4 linked regions of the Homo sapiens genome follow. The protein of the gene in region 1 purifies or fractionates together with the protein of each later gene. This does not show direct contact. Each region holds a gene or a part of one and is shown in the gene's direction. Other genes may lie near its edges.

Region 1 (3,671 bases):
GGGGGCTCCTGCTGGAGCTGGGTCCTGAGATCAGGCTGTGGCTCTCCAGGTGGACAGAAGAGCACCAGGGCAGAGCGGAGAGGTGGGTATGGCTGGGCCCTGTGCTTCTCTGTGGGGGCGGACGATTGTTAGTTGTTCATCAGGACAAGGAAGGCCATGGGTAGCGTGGGAAGGAGTTTGCATTTGACCCCATAGGTGTCAGGGAACCACTCAACAGGGGGCTTAGGTGATCTGACTTGCAGTTTTAGAAAGTTCACTCTTTCAGAGCTAGTGAGTGTGGGTTGGAAAGAGATTAATGAGGTGTCGAGTAAATCCCAGGTAGGGGTGATGGTGGCCCAATCCAAAGTTACAGTAGCAGTGATGGAGGTGATGGGATCTGAGTGGCATTAGGAAGAGCAGCTTGATGGGACTGCAAGCCAGATTTAAACAAACGACTGGCAGGAGGGGAAGGGCTTGACCATGTGAATGGGAAATGGCATTTTAAGTTTCTGGAAGTGACTTGGCGACAATGTGGAGTCAGGAATGGGTGAGGGGCCTTTGAAGTTGCTATGGTATGAATGGAGAATGCAGGATGGACTTGCAGAGTACAGAGGCCCGGAACCCCTGGCTTGCTTACTCATTCAGCAAATCATTTACTCCGTGCCAGGCACGGTTCTGGGTTCTGGCAATACAGCCGTAAACAAAACAGACAACAATTCCTGCTCTTGTAATAGGGGACAAGAATTTTTAAGTCAATAATATAGGAGGATCGCTGGAGCCCACGAGGTCGAGGTTGCAGAGAGCCGTGATTGCACCACTGCATTCCAGCCTGGGCGACAGAGTGAGACCCTGTCTCTAAGAAACAAAAACCAGGCCTTCAAATAGGGGAGATCTAATAGAGGGGACAACAGGGGAGTCAAACCATAAATAAGTAAAATAGAAAAAGTGTTTTGTGAACAAACATAAAGCAGGAAGGGGATACAGCAGATGGGGTGTACGAGTGTGAGAAATCTTATCTAGGGTGGCCAGTCACTGGGAGAAGGTTGCAGGAATTTTTAGCATACTGCTAGGATTTTGGAAATAATCTAAAAAGTGAGGGGCCAGGCATGGTGGCTCATGCCTGTAATCTCAACACTTTGGGAGGCCGAGGTAGGCGGATCACCTGAGGTCAGGAGTTTGAGACCAGCCTGGCCAACGTGGTGAAACCCCATATTTACTAAAAATACAAAAATTAACCAGGTGTGGTGGCAGGTACCTGTAATCCCAGCTACTCGGGATGCTGAGGCAGGAGAATTGCTTGAACCTGGGAGACGGAGGTTGCAGTGAGCCAAGATTGCACCATTGCACTCCAGCCTGGGCGACAAGAATGAGACCCTGTCTCAAAAAAAAAAAAAAAAGTGTGAGGGACAGTTATTAAAGATATGGAGAAATGGGCCGGGCGTGGTGGCTCATGCCTGTAATCCCAGCACTTTGGGAGACCGAGGTGGGCAGATCAGGAGGTCAGGAGTTTGAGACCAGCCTGACCAACATGGTGAAACCCTGTCTCTACTGAAAATGCAAAAATTGGCTGGGTGTGGTCGCAGGCGCCTTTAGTCCCAGCCACTTGGGAAGCTGAGGCAGGAGAATCGTTCGAACCCAGGAGGTGGAGTTTGCAGTGAGCCGAGATCGTGCCATTGCACTCCAGCCTGGGCGATAGGGCGAGACTTTGTCGCCAAAAAAAAAAAAAAAAAAAAAAAAAAAAAATGAAGAAACGGTCTGATTAAGGTGAGGGACCTTCCACAGCATTTGGGATGAAACCGCTAGGCCTGAGGGAACCGTGGCTGTTGTATTCTGCCTTGGGCCACAAGCAAAAAATGGTGAGACGTGTTATCTCGAGCTGTTGGCTTTTCCTGTCATAGATACAGGGTCACAAAGACAGAAAATGAAACTGTTAGAAAATATCTACAGGCATCTTCTTTTCCCGTGTAAATATTAGGAAGACAGAATGAAGATGCTCCTCCGCTCTCATCCACACCCATGGTCATATCTCTGAAGAGGGGAATACCAGGGAGTGATCACATTGTCAGATGCAGAAATTAAAAAAGCTTTTTTCCCCAGCCAAACTTTATGCTTGTGGAGCAACTTGGGGAGGAGACCCGCTGGTATGCATTTGGGCAGATTGTCACCTGTTGGCCACCTCTGTGATCGAGACCTTTGCCTTAGAGGAGTTCCTATGTAGACCCTGTCTGGTGGGCCGACAGACCGACAGTGGACGGAGGCATTCTGTATGCGTTAGCCTCTGCAAACAAACACCTGTCTCATGCCGGAAATCTGGGCGCCCCATTAACCCTGAGCACGGGCCTGCCAGCTGACAGAACCCTAGCCAGGTGTTGGTTTGGGGTTCAGTTGCATGCTCAGGTGTTCCCCTTCCTTCCCCCGTTAGCTTGTCCCCACCTAAGCCTGCAACCCTTGCCACTGGGATGCTAACCCGTTAGCAGAGCTCAGTCTCCTTGCTTGGAAATTCTGTGTTGACCTGCACTGCATTCTTTTTTTTTTTTTTTTTTTTTTTTTTTTGAGACAGAGTCTGGCTGTGTCACCCAGGCTGGAATGCCATGGCGTGATCTCAGCTTACTGCAACCTCTGCCTCCCAGGTTCAAGCGGTTCTCCTGCCTCAGCCTCCCAAATAGCTGGGATTACAGGTGTGCGCCACCACGCCCGGCTAATTTTTGTATTTTTAGTAGAGATGGGGTTTCACCATGTAGGCCAGGCCGGTCTTGAACTCCTGACCTCAGGTGATCCACCAGCCTCAGCCTCCCAAAGGGCTGGGATTACAGGCGTGAGCCACCACGCCCAGCCTTGACCTGCATTCTTGAGCAGGATCTGTTATGCACGTGGAAATACAGCCTCTCAGATAGCAAATGGCAGAGATGAGATGAGGCACACAGTTCCCCTCCACAGCTGGGGTGGGAGACAGAAAACAGCAGTAGAGTCGACACTCAAGCTGCCCCCAGTGACCATTTGTTCAGGCTCTTTGAGACCTGGCTTACAGTGACAAGGACACAGCTGTTAATTCTGAAGACAAGCTTTCGAGTAGAAGTAACCTCTGGTAAAGCAAGAGAAGGTTAAGGTTTGCTGAATTGCCAATGGGATGAAGAAGGAAGGGAGGGCTGTCTTTTCAGGTAGAATGCCTAAGGAAGGGAAACATGGAGAAGGAACAATTAGAGCAAGTCAAGAAGTTTCAAGATTTTTGTCTTCTGGCCAGCTTGGTGAGATAGTAATTATGTTTCTGCATATTGGTCAGCGTTGCCTATGTACTTTGCTGTGGAATAGTAATCTTGGAAAAAAACCAACCAACCAACCCACATTAATCTGTCCATGTCTGGGCACAGAGTGTGCAGAAGCCTGCGTGGGCCGTAAGTCTCGTCTTTGTCTTGGTTGGTGATTTTAGTATTGGTGTTTTTGCTGGAATTCCAAAACTGTAAGAGTGTAATCATTCACCATTAGAATTCTGCAGGTCCCCTCCTGACTCTGGACTAGCTGAGCTTAGGGGCCTGTCATCCATCTGGCCCTGGGCATATCATTTGTACTTTGCCTGTGACACACCTCAAGACCTTTTCCAACAGGAACTAGCATCCCTGGAGGGAATTTTGTGAAGAGATGAGAGTTTTTGAAACAGGAAGGGAACTGGCAAGGGAAGTGGCCAGGCACCGGTG
Region 2 (3,671 bases), on another chromosome or scaffold:
TCCCAGCACTTTGGCTCAAGCAGTCCTCCCTCTGAGACAGGAGGACCACTTGTGCCCAGGAGTCTGAGACCAGCCTGGGCAACATGGTGAAACCCTGTCTCTGTAAAAAGTAGAAAAATTAGCCCAGCATGGTAGTGCACACCCGTAGTCCCAGCTACTCAGGAGGCTGAGGTGGGAGGATGGCTTGAGCCCAGGAAGTCGAGGGTGCAGTGAGCCATGTTTGCACCACTGCACTCCTGCAGTCTAGGTGATGGAGCCAGCCAGACCTTGTCTCAAAAAAAAAAAAAAAAAAAAAAAAAGAAGTTGAGCTAGCTCTTAAAGATGGGCATTTGGCAAAACTGCCTGATACAGTGCAGTAACAAGTAGGTTTACTTCTGACCATTATAATGATGCGCCACTGTTAAGTGAAAATACCAGTGTATTGGGGCTTTTCTTTTGCTAATGAGCTTTGAAAAATTGATGACAAGAAATTTCTGTAATTGTTCTCCTATGTGTCGGGGAAGGAATTTGCCAATACTGAATAAAATTTTTTATATTCCGGGTAATGTATGTTAAAAGTAATTATGAGAAAGTGAGCTTTTTAGCATGGAACAGAAAAATCAAATTCTGTTACAAAATAAACAAATTTATAGAACAGAATGTTGGTAAAATTTGATATGGAATATGCCTAAGAAAGATTCGTGAAGTATTAAAAAATTAAAAATAATAATTTACACCTACCATCTCCCGTACCTTTAATTAGTATCAATTTCTTCACTCCTTATATTTCTCCTGAATTATTCCACCGACCTCATTCCCTAATGTCCTGCCCTTCTTACAAAAACCATTTCCTGAAGAAATAAGGGGCAGAAGAAAGTATAGGTAAATGAAACTTTAAAATTTCTCACACCTTTACTTTCATGATTTTTAAGTCTTTTTAGTTAATGTGAATACTTATAGAATTATGACCAAATTAATCTTGAAACACAGGGAAAAGACTTTATTAATGAATCTTTAAATATGCAGTTCTGTGCAATCAGTGGACATTTAAGGGTGAAAAATAAAAACACTAGTTACATTTGTTTTTCTAGTTTGGACCATTTTCAGAAAAATGTGATATTACTACAGCCCCTGGGCCACCAGATCAGTGCAAGCCCCCTCAAGTGACATGTAGATCTGCAACTTGTGCACAAGTGAATTGGGAGGTATTGTAATTTCCATTGACTTGTATCTACTTTCTTAAGTGAATAGAATAGTTTATATAAAAGAATAAAGATACTGTTCATTTTTACCGCCTATATTATACAGAGTAAGCCCTAGTTTAATTCACATGAAAAACAGTGACTTCTTTTTCCTCTTTGAAGAATTTGAGTAAGGTATATTTGCATTACAAATATTTAGATTCCTGTTCATTATGTGCTTTGTATTTTTATGAATGGCTTTGTCTCAGTACTGAGATATTTCAGCCACTGTAAGTTTAATGTTCAGAATAGACATACACAGGAATTAGTAAATTCTATTTCTCTTATATTTATCCAGTACACATCTCCAGTGTACTTATTGTGGATAGTAATAATCAGTGATGATAATTATTATATTTTCAGTTCCCTTTGAAATTTAACAAAATGTGTGTATGCTTTTAACATTTCATATTAATAGAATTATCTTGAAACATATTTACCTTAAAACACTCTTTCTAAAGTGACTTAGTCATATTTCTACTTCTAATTCAAAACAGTTATATATTTGACCAATCTTAAATTCAGATAATCTTAATGAATAAAAAATGTAAAATTGAACAGTTTTGATTGTGCTTAAAAGTTTTAAAGAAACTCAAAAGCAATCTAGTTTTACATGTGCTCAGGTAAAGAGCATTTTTGGCCAAAAGCTATTTAATCAACATCAAGACTAAGACCTTTATCCTTTTCTTAATTTAAAGGTTCCTTTGAGTAATGGAACAGATGTCACTGAATATCGACTGGAGTGGGGAGGAGTTGAAGGAAGTATGCAGATATGTTACTGTGGGCCTGGTCTCAGTTATGAAATAAAAGGACTTTCACCAGCAACTACCTATTATTGCAGGGTCCAGGTAAAGATGATCAGTACCTTGTCACTTAACTCTATCCAGAGTTTTATATTTCATTGGCATTTTCATGGTCATGACTTTGTTAACTCGGAGGCTCTGTTAATTTGTAGGCTCTGAGTGTTGTGGGTGCAGGCCCTTTCAGTGAAGTAGTAGCCTGTGTGACTCCACCATCAGTTCCTGGCATTGTGACCTGTCTTCAAGAAATAAGCGATGATGAGATAGAAAATCCCCATTATTCACCTTCTACATGCCTTGCAATAAGCTGGGAAAAGCCTTGTGATCATGGTTCGGAAATCCTTGCCTACAGCATAGACTTTGGAGATAAACAATCCCTAACAGTGGGAAAGGTTACAAGCTATATTATCAACAATTTGCAACCAGATACAACATACAGGTATACTCTAAAAATTATGTTGATTTTTGCCTAGACCAGAGAGACGCTTTAAATAAAACAATCATAACCAAACTTTTTTTCTTATGTGGCACTTAGAATACGAATTCAAGCCTTGAATAGCCTTGGAGCTGGTCCTTTCAGCCATATGATAAAATTAAAAACTAAGCCTCTCCCTCCTGATCCACCTCGTCTGGAATGTGTTGCCTTTAGCCACCAGAACCTTAAGCTGAAATGGGGAGAAGGAACTCCAAAGACATTGTCAACCGATTCTATTCAGTACCACCTTCAGATGGAGGATAAGAATGGACGGTAGGTTTTTTTAATTGCTTCTTTATATAGTTTCTTAGGTCTTAAGTATATACATTTCTGTAACTATTAGAAGTAGGCCAGGTGTGGTGGCTGACACCTGTAATCTCAGCACTTTGGGAGGCTGAGGCAGGCGAATTGCTTGAGCCCAGGAGTGCAAGACCAGCCTGGGCAAGACAGTGAGACCTTGTCTCTAAAAAAAATTTATTTTAATGAAGTAAGTTTTCAAAAACGAAGTCAAGATTGTCATACAAAAGTGTGCTGTTTTTAAAACGTTAGAAAACACAATGTACATTTCCTGTTTATAATTTGTGAGTGGAATACCAAGAGAAAAAAATAAGTGGGCTACTGTTTGGTTGTTTTCTGTAATCCATTTACTGTTTTCATGATAGTAAAAGACACCTAATCTTAGATACAAAATAAACTCTTCAGTGTTTATTTCTAGCAGGACACAATTTTTTTTTTTTAAGACAAGGTCTTGCTCTGTCACCCAGGCTGGCCTCCAGTGGCACTATCTTGGCTCATTGCAACCTCTGCCTCCAGGGCTGGAGCCATCCTCCCACCTCAGCTCCCCAAGTATCTGTGACCACAGGCGTGGGCCACTACACCTGGCTAATTTTTGTATTTTTAGTAGAGATGGGGTTTCACCATGTCGCTCACACTGGTCTCGAACTCCTGGGCTCAAGTGGTCCTCCCCGCTCAGCCTCACTGAGTGCTGAGATTACAACTCATGAGCCACTGTGCCTGACCGAAACAATTTTTTTTTTTTTTTTTTTTGAGACGGAGTCTCACTCTCACCAGGCTGGAGTGCAGTGACGCGATCTCGGCTCACTGCAATCTCCGCCTCTCAGGTTCAAACAATTCCCCTGCCTCAGCCTCCCAAGTAGCTGGGACTACAGGTGCGCA
Region 3 (3,671 bases), on another chromosome or scaffold:
GAAGCTGGGCTCTGGAGTTTCTCTCCAACTCATTTCATGCTGAGCTTCAGGGAGTGGTCATGGCAACTGCTTGTGTGCTTGTTCAAACTTCTGTCACATTATCACTGGCCCCTAGATATCTAGGGCGTTTTAGATTCCATCAGTGCTACAAGGCTGGCAAGACAGAAGCCAGTTCCTAGGGCAGCTCTTAGAAAAGTTGGAATGTTAGATACACAAGCCAAGTTTTTCCTTCCCCAAGGAGTGGTGGGGAGCTGCAGGTGTTCTTATGATCATATGGTGCTGTATTGGGGGTACATAATTGCTCTCGCAGATTATGGCAAGAGGGTGTCTCCAGTCTTCTACCAGGTTTGATGTTGTTCATTTCGTACTTGTGCAGGTGCAGAAGCATTGCACCTAGTTTCAGGATTTCTCACAAAGGGAATTCGTATATTATCGTTGAATCAGTGTGTTCATGTGGGGAAGGAGGGTTTAGGGCGTCCTATTCTTCCATCTTGCTGATGTCAACCTGTTACTTATTTTTCCTAAATTGGAAAAATGTAAATAAAATACTCATTTTGGAAACAAAATTATCTGACTTTAGTGGCTCTTTGAACTGGGTTTGAGAAGTACAGACAAACTCAACACTCTTATCTTAACATTAAAGTAGATATCTCAAGTCCCCTTTTAATACTTTTAGCTTGGAATACTTTCTAGTCTGTAGGGATAATTAATTTCTTTTTCTATTTCTGCATATCAAATATTGCTTTAAAGATTCCCTTCAGCTGTGTTACTTAGAGATTGAATAGGGAAATATTTTGTCTTTTGATTAACAGTTTTAGGCTAAAAAAATTAGATAAGTATGCCTTTGGTTTGTGTAGCAGACAAACTTCATGTTAGATAATTCGTGAATTTGTAGTCCATTCAAATGTTTATCTTCCAGTTTTCAGAGGGGTTTTTTGTTTGTGTTAGAATTCTTTCAAGTCATTTTATATTTTTATGAATTATTTGAGAAGAATACTTGTTAATCTCAGCCTGTATTTTTATTGTGAATGTGATTACCTATTATTGAGGGGCATAGTCCTCTGGGTGTTTCTAATTCAGCATCAAATAATTATTTCTTTATAGATACATATGTTACATACATATTTTACACATAAGCACACACACATCTTGCATATATAGATATGTATTTATATGTGTATAAACATGAATAATATTTATGTTTGTTATATACATTTATCTTGTATATTCCTGTTTATATACATATAAACATGTATATCCATATCTGTGCAGTAGTGTATAAAGTACCTTGAATTCTTTTCAACTTAGAATACTCAGAGGTCTTAAGGAATTATATTTCTTTAAATATTGAATAAGATTTACTTGAATTTAAAATTTTTTATTTTGCTAACATTTGGAAATGCTTTAATGGTATTTGTTAAGAAATGATGTAGCATGGTTGTTGACTAGCATGCAGTGTTCTATTAATATATTTGCCTTTTGGGGTTTCACAATTACACTATTATAAATCTTTTTGAGAGTACATTTTAGTCAGTATAGTATATATATTTTTTCTTAGTTTTAATCAAAAATAAAATCATTGGGAAATATAACCACTTGTTTTCCAGTTACTTATTATAGAAAGAATAAGTTAAGAAATGTGAATAAATTGAACAAATTAATAAAATATTTGTTAATAATCCACCTTATGGAGGATTTAAAAATAATTTTAATTATAAAATAATGTATTTTAATATAGTTCAGAAATAAAAGTGTTGCTCCCTCTCCACTATCAGATACCTCAGGTACATTCTTAGGGTAGTTAACAGCTTCTTAAATAGCTTCTCAGATATGTTCTGTGCATATACAAGTATATACGTATGAGTATGTATATGAGTGTATGATGGAATTGTACATACACAAGATCTACATATATTCTTTTAAAAAGTACTAATGTACTTTTATATTGTACTTTTATAAGGTATTGTGTTTTATAAGGTATATGAATTAAATATATTGTCCATATACATTGAGAAAATTGGGTAAATTGATGTGCATAATAAACATGTCATCTCTTTATGTTTATTTGAAGTTTTTTTCTGATTGTTCTAGTGGCATAGAAGTAAAGTTTCTTTAATACAGTTTAATAACATTATATTTTAAAACTTTATGAAAACAGAATTTTTAATTTGTGTAAAAGATTTTACCCTTAATACATGTTCTTAATATCCATCATACTGAAAATAGTGGGCTATCTTTGGTTAGCAGGGTTATTGTGAATGTTGTATATGGGAAGGGCAGGCATTCTGTTATTTCAGTACTGTGATACCATGTTGTTTGAGGTGGGTCTTTTTCTAAGCAATGGGCATGTTCTACTTTTATTAAAGTGATGATAGAAAATGACTTTAAAGCATGTAGTGACATAAAGTTGTTAGGAGATATAACTAATGCTAAATGACGAGTTAATGGGTACAGCACACCAACATGGCACATGTATACGTATGTAACAAACCTGCACGTTGTGCACATGTACCCTAAAACTTAAAGTATAATTATAATAGAATTAAAAAAAAATAAAGTAGTAGTTTTTAAAAAATCCTCAAAACTGAGCTCATTGTGTGGTTTTACTAATTTTGGTTTTAGGCTTGTGCAGACATAAGAGCCAGTTCAGTGTTTTGGCAGCAAATGGAGTTCGTTGATAGCCTGCATGGCCAACCCAAGATGCCAGAATGGTTATCTACACACCCTTCTCATGGCAATCGAGTTGAGTACTTGGATAGACTTATACCTCAGGTGAGCTGACACCGTAGAAGGCGGGACATTATTTTTACTGTATCATTTATTTTTAATGCTGTCACTTCTTTTGCTTAGTAAAAGAGAGTTCTAGCCTATTAACTATTTTGATTACTATAATTATGGATTATCAGTTGTCACAGAATTTGACTGAAAAGCAAAATTCTGCTTGTCCACAAGTCTTGGAGAATAAATTACTATGTACAGTTGACTTTTCTTAATAGTGAAGGTTTAACTCCTTTAGTATGAGACTTTAATTTTAACTGACTTGATGAAAGTTTAAAACTCAAGGCATATTAAGTTTTTTAAACATGTTGATGATAATTTAATCTTTCCTTGGTGATTTAAGCTTTTTGTTAAAAATACCAGTTAATGAGTTGTACAGAAGTTTTGGGTCAAGTGGATATTAATTGTAGTAGTGGTACTGGAATTTGTTTTTTTAGGAAAAAAAATCTTCATGTTTGTTTCTGGTTATTTATTTCTTTATGAAGATAAGAGTGAAGCATTTGCTCTCTGGCTTTTCTTTCTGTAGAATTCATAAGTGGGTCAAGCTGAGGCGGCTTTCTGCCAAGTAGTTTTCAGTATCCTCTGAAAATCTTTTGATTTGTTGACATCATTCAGAATGTTTTTATGGTTTCCATATCAGGACAAAATGGATGTTAGGCATCTCTGAGCCACGTTACACGCTCTCTTCTATCTCACTTGTATTAAATTTGGTGGCTTGTTATGAAAGCGGAACATTTTTTAGCAATTTAAGAATTGGTACTGGGCCATGTGCTAAGGCATAGCACAACAGATCCAGGTGTATTATAGAAGTATCTTTCTCATGCCTGTTATCCCAGCATTTTGGGAGGCTGAGGTGGGTGGATCACCTGAGGTCAGGAGTTCGAGACCAGCCT
Region 4 (3,671 bases), on another chromosome or scaffold:
CCTGACCTCAAGTCATCTGCCCGCCTTGGCCTCCCAAAGTGCTGGGATTACAGGTGTGAGCCACCATGCCCAGTTGGTATTTTGTTTTGATTTTGCATTTCCCTGGTGACTAGTGATGTTGAGTGTCTTATGATGTGTTCTTTGGCTTTGGTATACTTCTTTGGAGAAATGTCTGCTCACATCCTGTTCCCATATTTAAAATGAGTTGTCTTTTTATTATTGAGTTGTAAGAGTTCATCTATTTTTTTTTAATGTGCTTTTGGTGTCAGAGAAACTAATGCCTAATCAAAGTGTATGAAGATTTATTTCTGTGTATTCTTCTTAGTGTTTTGTAGTTTCATATCTTACATTTAGGTCTTTGATCCATTATGAATTAATTTATGTATATGATGTGAGGTCATCATTCTTTTGCATGTGTTTATCCAGTTGTCCCACACTGTTTGTTGAAAAGACTATTTTTTCCACGTTGAATTGTCTTTGTAAAAAAATCTATTATAGCCAGGCGCAGTGGCACGTGCCTGTATTCTCAGCTACTGAGAAGCTGAGATGGGAAGGTCGCTTGAGCTCAGGACTTGGGGTCCAGCCTGGGCAACATAGCGAAACCCTGTCTCTGAAAAAATAAATACATTTTAAAAAGCCTCTTGACCATAAATTTAAGGCTTTATTTCTGGACTCAGTTCTATTCCATTGATATGTTTAGTCTGATGCCATTACGTAGTTTTGTAATAAGTTTTGAATTCGGGAGTGTGAGTCCTCTGACTTTGTCCTTTTCAAGGCTGTTTATCTACTCCTAGTCCCTTTAGTTTCCATATGAATTTTGGGGTCAGTGTGTCAGTTTCTGCAAAGAAGCTAGCTGAGATTTTTGACAATGATTGCATTGTATCGCCATATTAATTTGGGAGCACAATTTTAGTCTTTAAATCTGTGAACATGAGATGTCTTTCTCTTATTTTAGTTCTTTAATTTCTTTCAACAATGTTTTATAGTTTTTGGTGCACAATGTTTAAACTTCTCTTGTTAAATGTATTCTTAAGTATTTTATTATTGTTATTTTTTTGATGTTATTCTTTCTTCTGCCAGTCCAAATCTGCTGTTGATCCCCTCGGGTGAATTTTTCATTTCAGTTCTCATACTTCTCAGTTCTTGAATTTCTATTTGGTTCTCTAAAAAAATAATATATTGATATTCTCCATTTTACTAGAGATATCTAGGCATATTTTGCTATAGTTCTTTGAACCTGTTTATAATAGCTGATTTAAATTCATTATCTAGTAAGTCCAATGTCTGGGCTTCTTCATGGATAGTTTCTATTAAACTGCTTGCTTTTTCTATGTACTGGCCATACTTTCCTGTTTTGGTGTGTTTTTTGTAATTTTTTTGTTGAAAACTGTACATTTAAAATAATGTGGCAACTGTGGAAATCAGATGCCCTCCTCCCTGGGTTTATTGTTGCTGGCTCTTTGTTGTTGTTGTTGTTGCTGCTGCTGTTTGTTTACTGCGTTTCCTGGATTAATTATGTCATTCCTTGTTCAGTGAGGTCACTGAAATCTCTGCTTGCTTACTTTAGTGGGCATCTAATATTTGGACAGAGATTTACTGAAGTGCTTTGAACAGCCAGTCTCCTAGCTTTTGCTGAAAGGCTCTGTATGTGTGTGTTAGGGGATGTTATTAACACTCCAACAGGCAGTTACAAGTCTGCCTTCACTACCTGTGTGTACAGGTCAGCCAGAGGTAAAAGATTACAGCCTCTTAGATCTTACCTGGGCATATGCATGGTCTTATACATATGTGTGGCCTTCAAGATTCTCTTATGTTGGAACTTTTCAAAGTCTCCTGTGGACATCTTACTCCCCAGTTTTCCCTTTTAAACTTCTTGTTCTGTCTCTTAGCACCAACTGATATCACCATCTCAGGCGCCTTCAGTGTTAAACAATTTTTGCTAAATATTTTTGGAAAATTTGCTCTGGCTCCTCTAATAGTTGTTAGGCTTCTGGCTTTCACAGCTGCTATAGTTGTCATGCTGTTGGTTTCCGGGGCTACCATGGATTTGGGGAGAGGAGGATGAAAGAAATACAACTTACACTACCACAAAGCTTACTCTTCTTACCAAGATTCAGATTTCTTTTTCTTGAATTAACTCTCCTTAGATTGTTGCAAGCCTTTGGTTAATCTTCCAGAATTTTGAAAAAGTTGACATTAAGATTGTTGCTACTGTTTTCATTTTTTGGAGGAGTGAATTTTTGTAGGTTCTTACTTCATTCTTCAGGGCAATCGCTTCTGTTACCTTGCCCTCCTTTTTCACCATGGACAGTGGTAGAGCATGATAACCCCAGCCACCCTGAACCAGTTACCTCTGTACTTTTAGCTGGAATGCAAGCTGTCTTGTACTAACTAAGAAGTTAAACTAATTTTTTGTACTGTTGAAGTATGTTATTTATAACAATCAGGAAATGCTTTCTCATTTTAGCTCAAGGATCTAAATTTACTTGATCGCTGTATAAAAGAAACATTAAGACTTAGACCTCCTATAATGATCATGATGAGAATGGCCAGAACTCCTCAGGTGAGTATCTTGGCTACATCTTCCCCTCTATACCCCCAGTTTTTATCAAAAAGAAGAAATAGGTGGGTGTGGTGGTTCACACCTGTAATCTCAACACTTTGGGAGGCTGAGGTGGGAGGATCACTTGAGGCCAGAATTTGAGACCAGCCTGGGCAACATAGTGAGACTGACCTCATCTCTACAAAATTTTTTCTAAAAATTAGCTGGCCATAATGGCACATGCCTGTGGTCCCAGCTGCTTGGGAGGCTGATGTGGGTAGATTGCTTGAGCCTGGGAGGTTGAAACTGCAGTAATCCATGATCACGCCACTGCATTGCTGCCTGGGCAACAGAGCAAGACCCTGTCTCAAAAAAAATAAAAATAAAAAAGAAAGAAAAAGAAAAGAGGAAGTAGAGTAGCATAAAAGAGATTTTTTTAAATTAAAAAAGTAGAATAATCACTTCTACCTAATCTTCAGTTTTATATACTCTAAAAACATATTTTTACCTAATTGTAGATAGTATACGTGCTAATCTGTTTTTTTTTTTTTTGAGACGGCATTTCACTCTTGTTGCCCAGGCTGGAGTGCAGTGGTGCGATCTCAGCTCACTGCAACCTCCGCCTCCCGGGTTCAAGCAATTCTTCTGCCTCAGCCTCCCAAGTAGCTGGGATTACAGGGGCATGCCACCATGCCTGGCTAATTTTTTGTATTTTAGTAGAGATGGGGTTTATCCATGTTGGTCAGGCTGATCTCGAACTCCCGACCTCAGGTGATCCACCCGCCTTGGCCTCCCAAAGTGCTGGGATTACAGGTGTAATCCCGCGCCCGGCCTACATGCTAATCTTTAATGCTAATCATGTTCTGCATTTTTCTTTAACAATTGGGGTTTTAAAAATCAAAGTACATATTTTTCTTGGTTTTAAAAATAACATTTTGTTGTAAAAAATTGTTAATATGAAGTGTACAAATTGATAGTGAAAGCCTCTCTGAAATTCCAACCCTACCTCCAAGGCATTATGGGTTTGATTTGTGTACTGTGTACTTCCAACCCAACGCTGGCTCACTGGAAATCATCTTGAGTTAAAATAATTTTTAGTTTGCCTATTATCTAGCCAGTTTTTAAATAT

What was found. Proteins that work in one complex are often made in the same cells at the same time.
Region 2: the proteins of ADCY9 (region 1) and FNDC3A purify together in Homo sapiens (co-immunoprecipitation; 2 studies listed by BioGRID and IntAct, with this or other methods). This does not show direct contact.
Region 3: the proteins of ADCY9 (region 1) and OMA1 purify together in Homo sapiens (affinity purification with mass spectrometry; one large-scale study listed by BioGRID and IntAct). This does not show direct contact.
Region 4: the proteins of ADCY9 (region 1) and CYP51A1 purify together in Homo sapiens (affinity purification with mass spectrometry; one large-scale study listed by BioGRID and IntAct). This does not show direct contact.

The regions. Positions count from the first base shown.
Region 1 is NC_000016.10:4,106,412-4,110,082, reverse strand, and holds part of ADCY9 (adenylate cyclase type 9), read left to right. Parts: intron 1-3,671. UniProt on the Homo sapiens protein: Adenylyl cyclase that catalyzes the formation of the signaling molecule cAMP in response to activation of G protein-coupled receptors.
Region 2 is NC_000013.11:49,195,807-49,199,477, forward strand, and holds part of FNDC3A (fibronectin type-III domain-containing protein 3A), read left to right. Parts: intron 1-1,070; coding exon 1,071-1,184; intron 1,185-1,918; coding exon 1,919-2,068; intron 2,069-2,175; coding exon 2,176-2,459; intron 2,460-2,555; coding exon 2,556-2,768; intron 2,769-3,671. UniProt on the Homo sapiens protein: Mediates spermatid-Sertoli adhesion during spermatogenesis.
Region 3 is NC_000001.11:58,505,161-58,508,831, reverse strand, and holds part of OMA1 (metalloendopeptidase OMA1, mitochondrial precursor), read left to right. Parts: intron 1-2,622; coding exon 2,623-2,772; intron 2,773-3,671. UniProt on the Homo sapiens protein: Metalloprotease that is part of the quality control system in the inner membrane of mitochondria. Activated in response to various mitochondrial stress, leading to the proteolytic cleavage of target proteins, such as OPA1, UQCC3 and DELE1.
Region 4 is NC_000007.14:92,117,412-92,121,082, reverse strand, and holds part of CYP51A1 (lanosterol 14-alpha demethylase), read left to right. Parts: intron 1-2,467; coding exon 2,468-2,563; intron 2,564-3,671. UniProt on the Homo sapiens protein: Sterol 14alpha-demethylase that plays a critical role in the cholesterol biosynthesis pathway, being cholesterol the major sterol component in mammalian membranes as well as a precursor for bile acid and steroid hormone synthesis.